2 separate regions of the Homo sapiens genome follow, and region 2 is linked to region 1. The links come from fine-mapping of genetic effects on gene expression. A gene starts in region 1. The other region holds a variant in brackets. All regions are shown on one strand. Distances are between the middles of the regions.

Evidence for each region. PIP is the estimated chance that this variant, and not a neighbour inherited with it, causes the effect.
Region 2: its variant is the best candidate, but not a certain one, in a credible set for the expression of RASL11A in aorta (GTEx, PIP 0.88).

Annotation. Positions count from the first base shown.
Region 1 is chr13:27,269,660-27,272,564 of GRCh38, reverse strand. RASL11A (RAS like family 11 member A) reads right to left here and starts at 1,735. Exons shown (of 4, transcript NM_206827.2): 1 at 1,497-1,735; 2 at 1,025-1,081; 3 at 847-926. The coding sequence starts at 1,620. RefSeq lists silencers at 1,335-1,564, 1,605-1,824 and an enhancer at 1,773-2,273.
Region 2 is chr13:27,298,900-27,301,804 of GRCh38, reverse strand. No RefSeq gene overlaps it. Among named protein-coding and RNA genes, the nearest start is that of RASL11A, 30 kb to the right of the region's middle. The variant T/C (reference allele first, on the strand shown) is at 1,741.

The DNA.
Region 1 (2,905 bases):
TGGAGAACGGAGTAGCAATTAGTAACTGGTTAATAAACAAGTTACATTCTAGACCCTCTGCCAAGGGGTTATCTGATTGCAATTACTGACTTGAGGGAACAGCCATTAACAGCAGCAGTTCAGCAGTGCTTGGGCCGGGCGCTGTGGCTCATGCCTATAATCCCACCACTTTGGGAGGCCGAGGTGGGCGGATCACTTGAGGTCAGGAGTTCGAGACCAGCCTGGCCAACATAGTGAAACCCCATCTCTACTAATAAATAAATAAATAGATAAATAGCTGGGAGTTCCGGCGGGTGCCTGTAGTCCCAGCTACTCGGGAGACTGAAGCAGGAGAATCGAGGAGAATCGCTGGAACCTAGGAGGCGGAAGTTGCAGTGAGCTGAGATCCAGCCACTGCACTCCAGCCTGGGCAAGAGTGAAACTCCGTCTCAAAAAAAGCAGAGCTTGCCAGGGGAGAAGAGTCTCTCCCATCAGAATCCTACCTCTTTTTTTGTTTTGTTTTGTTTTGTTTTAAACGTTTTTTTCTTTGTTAATGGTTCCATGGCTACCTCCGGAAGAAATGGTGAGACCTGCTTAAGTAGTGATGGCCCACCAGGGTTGCAAAGTGAAGTTAAGTCAGGTGCTTAACAAGAGGAGGCTGCTTCTAACCATGCCTCCCCCTTAGAGAGTTTCTAACACCCCAACCACTGGCCCCACCTGTGGACAGCCCATTCCTCCCTCTAAACGCACAGGTCGGTTTAGATGCCTTGCTCAGACCCCTGCGCCCAGCATGGGCGCCCTACGTGCTGTGCCCACTGGGGTGGTCTCACGGGTGGGGGTGAGCTGTTTGCCCCTGGCGGTTCTTACCTGGACGCCCCCGGGAGTATCCTGGATCTGCAGGGAGAGCTGGTCCCCCTCGACATAGACCAGCCGTGAATACAGCTTGCCTGGAGAATGAAGTAGAGTTTGCTTTTTAATTCTCAAACTCCCATCCGTAAAAAGAAACACGCAAGCATAAAAGCAGGGAGCGTGAAAGTATTCTCACCTGTATTCGGTTCATAGTCTCCAATGAATCTCTTGGTCAGGAAGCGCACGATCATTGCTGAAAAGGAAATAGGAAAATCAACCGAAGGAGTAGAACAAGCCTGTCAAACCCAGGCACCTCGGACAAACTGGGGGGAGTGAAGGGTGCAGAACCGTGGGCACTGCTCGCTTCCAGAGGCTCCGCAAAGCCGTGGTGCCGCGGGCTTGGCCGCGAGTACGACTGGCGGGACACCTCTCCCGCACCCCATCCCCGAACAGGCGCCAATCCCGCCGAGATCCCAGGAGTAGATGCACCAGGAAACGCCAGGGAAGCAGGCCGGGACGGACCGGGACCCACCCAGCGCGAAAGCAGCCCGATTCTACCTGCACCCGCGCCCTCTGCTTCGGCCGAGGCGCCCTCTCTCCGCAGCGCCCCCAGTGGTCGCGGCCGGAGCCGGGGAGCGAAGCCGCCCGGGGGTCCCCGCCGCACTCACCGCTCTTGCCCACGCGGCCGGCGCCCAGCACCGCCAGTTTGATGTCCTTGGGCAGTAGGTAGTCCGAGGAGGACTCGGGGATGGGTGCGAGCAGAAAGTGCCCGGACATGCTGAGCGGCCGCATGGAGCGCGTCCCGGGGTCCGGCGCGCAATCCGAGAGGGCTGGGCCTCGCCGCACCCGGAGCCGGCTCGCCAGCTGGGAGTGCGGGACTAGAGGTCCGGGACCGCGGCGGCTGCCTGCAGAACTGTCAAGGCCCGCGGCTTTTAAAGGGCTTGGTGCGCCCGGGAGCGCGGCGGCCGTCCCAGCTCCTCCTCGTCTCCGCCCCTTCCCGGAGCGGCCGGGAGGGGCGGGAGCAGAGGCCGCGGAGCTGACTATCGCCGAGGCTGTGCGCTTCGCCGGGCTGCTAGCTGCTCGCGGCTCCAGGCGCTCTGCGGCAGGACTGCGGCTCCGGGGCTCAGACCCTGGAGATACGGCCACCGTCCAGAGCGCGCGAGTGGCCTCTAGTCAGGCATTCTGCGAGTCTCCTCGCCCCGCAGCAGCCAGCCGGAGTCACTAGACCTGTGGGTGAACTTGAGATAGGAGTTACGAGTTGACGAGAGAAGAAGAAAAAGTGCAATCAGTTGGATGTTTCTGCAACAATGGGACAGATTGCTGTAAAACGCTGCCCTTTTTATTTTTAAAAGGTGCTAAGGGGCTGGGCGCGGTGGCTTACGCCTGTAATCCCAGCACTTTGGGAGGCCCAGGTGGGCAAGATCATCTGCGGTCAGGAGTTCAAGACCAGCCTGGCCAACATGGCGAAACGCTGTCTCTACTAAAAATACAAAAATTAGCGGGGCGTGGTGGTGGGCGCCTGTAATCCCAACTACTCGGGAGGCTGAGGCAGCAGAATCGCTTGAACTAGGGAGGCGGAGGTTGCAGTGAGCCGAGATGGCACCACTGCACTCCAGCCTGGACCACAAGAGCGAAACTCCGTCTCAAAAAAAAAAAAAAAAGAAAGAAAAGAAAAGATGCTAAGGGGTAACATTAATATGGGAAAAGGGCGGGGGGCGGGGGGCAAGAGCTCTGAATTAGTATCAGTGGAGGCAACTGCAGTCACTGTGACCTTGCTAGGGATAGATGAAGTCCCCTTAGGGGCAGTGATGGTTAGCATCTCAGTATCCATGCCCAGCCCCTCCTCTGCAGGCAGGGGTTGCACTGGCTCATTCCTGAACACTCATGAGCACTCCACTGGCTGGGGGCCCTGGCCCTGCACTAAGTGTCCATCATTAATACTATCCTATGTGCTTGAGTCATGCATTTGCTTCAGTATCCAAATATTTACTTCTAGGTGCATGGTGGGGTCTAGGGTGGGGTGGGGGGCAGTGTGAGGAACAGGACACAGAGCTATAGACTGGTTCTTGGATTTCTG
Region 2 (2,905 bases), 29 kb before region 1:
GGCCAGATGTTTGAGACCAACCTGGGCAACATAGTGAGATCCCATCTCTAAAAAAAAAAAATTTTTTTTTTTGAGACAGAGTCTCACTCTGTCACCCAGGCTGGAATGCAGTGGCGCGATCTTGGCTCACTGCAACCTCTGCCTCCTGGGTTCAAGCAGTTCTCCTGCCTCAGCCTCCCGAGTAGCTGGGATTACAGGTGAGTGCCACCACACCCAGCTAATTTTTATATTTTTAGTAGAAACAAGGTTTTGCCATGTTGGCCAGGCTGGTCTCGAACTCCTAGCCTCAGGTGATCCACCCACCTCAGCCTCCCAAAGTGTTGGGATTACAGGAGTGAGCCACTGCACCCGGCCGTCTACAAAAAAAAATTTTTTTTATTAGCTAGGTGCCATGACTCATGTCTGTAGTCCCAGCTACTTAGGAGGCTGAGGCAAGAGGATTACTTGAGCCCAGAAGTTCCAGGTTACAGTGAGCTGTGATCTTGCCAGTACACTCCAGCCTAGGTGACAGAGTGAAACCCTGTCTCTTAAAAAAAACAATGTTTTTAATTAAAATAAAGCTATTGGGTTCCTCTTGCCCCTGTTGAAATGTGGGGTGTAAGAAACTGGTTCTAGGATCAATGCCTAGTCCTGAGCTTCCAGAAGCTGCTGGTGACTGTTGAGGCTTGCCTTTTCTGCTTGTACTCAGACAACTCCTTCTTTCTAGAGACCAGCTGTCTCCAGGCCGTGAGTCTGGAGCGCTGAGAAAGTGCTCTCAAGTCTGGGTCTCTGCTCTTGCTCCCACTGAAAGAGGTCTGGGTGCTATTTGGTCTGCGGGTTGTAGGGGCCAGCAGACTTTTTTTGTTCTTGTTTGTTTGTTTGTTTGTTTGTTTGAGATGGAGTCTCGCTCTATCACCCAGGCTGGAGTGTAGTGGTGCGATTTCTGCTCAATGCAACCTCTGCCTCCTGGGTTCAAGTGATTCTCCTGCCTCAGCGTCCCGTGTAACTGGGATTACAGGCACATGCCACCATGCCCAGCTAATTTTAGTATTTTTAGTAGAGATGGGGGTTTCAGCATGTTGGCCAGGCTGGTCTCCAACTCCTGACCTCAAGTGATCCGCCCGCCTCAGCCTCCCAAAGTACTGGGATTACAGGCGTGAGCCACTGCGTGTGGCTGGGCTGGCAAACTAAACAGCTTCATAACTCTACTGCATAATAGCTTCATGGCAGAGGAGGACAAACTCGCTCCTTAATCCTGCATTGCTTCATCAGTAATAGAGGATAATGATAGTGCCTCGTCAGGCTGCTGTGAACCTTAAGATAGCAAATGTGGAGTTCTCAGTTTAATATCTGCGGGAAAGCTGTCATTACTTGCTGGACAAGACCCTTGTGGTGAATGAATATGTATTGAGATTTTGCAAGGTGTCACAGGGAACACTAAGATAAGCCAGAGGCCTTGCTTTCAAGAAGATGATAACATCCTAGAGGGCAGGAGTCAGTACGGTTTGCAGGCCAAATCTGGCTGCTCCTTGTTTTTGTATAGACCACAAGCTGAGAAAGATTTTTACATTTTAAAATATATTTTTTTAAAGATCAAAAGAAGAATATTTTTGTAATGTAAAATTATATGGAATTCTAATTTCAATGTCCATAAATTTTATTTATTTTTATTTGTTTTTTGGAAACAAGGTCATGCTCTGTCACCCAGGCTGCAGTACAGTGGAGCCATTATAGCTCACTATAGCCTCAGACTCCTGGGTT[T/C]AAGGGATCCTCCTGCCTCAGCCTCCCAAGTAGCTGGGACCACAGGCACATGCCATCATGCCCAGCTAATTTTTTTTTTAATTTTGTTTACTTATTTGTTCATTTATTTTGTAGAAATGGGGTCTTGCTTTATTGTTCAGGCTGGTCTCAAACTCCTGGTCTCAAGCAATCCTCCCGCCTTGGTCTCCCAAAGTGCTAGGATTACAGATATGAGCCACCATGCCCAGATACAATGTCCATAAACTAATAACATTCTTTTCATTAGTAGACCTGAAACATTATACTCAGTTATTCTTGTATTTTGAATTTCATCAGTAACAATGTTGTGGAAATCTATTCTCTTTTGTCCTAAAGACATATATAATTGCCTCAATTTTGCCTCTTTTCCCCTAAGCCTAAATATTTACTATCTGACCCTTTACAGGAAAAGTTTGCTGACCCCTAACATACAGGCAAACAGCTCATTATAACATGGGGTACTCTCTCACACAGGTGCCAGCAAACTTAGGAAGTCAGAGAAAGGAGCAATGGGACCCAGTGGGAGGATTAGACACTGGTCTATGGAGAGCACAATGTTTGAGCTGGAAACTAATACAAGCGGTTACCTTTGGGTACATGGGGAGGAGCACAAATTGGGTGGATGAATACAGGAAGAGAAGTGAAGATTTTCACTTTATACCTTTTTACATTTTTAAAAATTTCTAACCATATGAAAACATACACATTTCAAAAAACAAAACTTGAAGTTTGAGCTACACCAGACATATTGGCTGTCGTCCCCCACGGAGAAAGTTCTGTGAAGGGCCCAGGTGAGGAAGGAAGAATGAGAGCCCAAAGCTCGTGGTGAGGACCTGGAAGGATGTCCTTGAGGTGGAAATGGCAGAGCCCGGTATCTACCTTGATGACAAAACCATGCCCTGCTCTCCTGGATGGCAATCCTGTCTGATAAAGCTTTGCTCAAATGTTGAAAGCTGCCATGGTGCAAAGGACACTTAACTGGGGAACGAATCCAAGTGAGTGATCTTTCTGAACACCAGGAAGCTGGCAGAGCTATTAACTAGATTGCTCACTGGTTTTCACGTGTGTCAAACTTCTCATTCTGCAAATGGGCTGTCCCTCTGGCCGGGAATAGGAAATTTGTGGCAATTCTCAGGAGGGAAGGGAA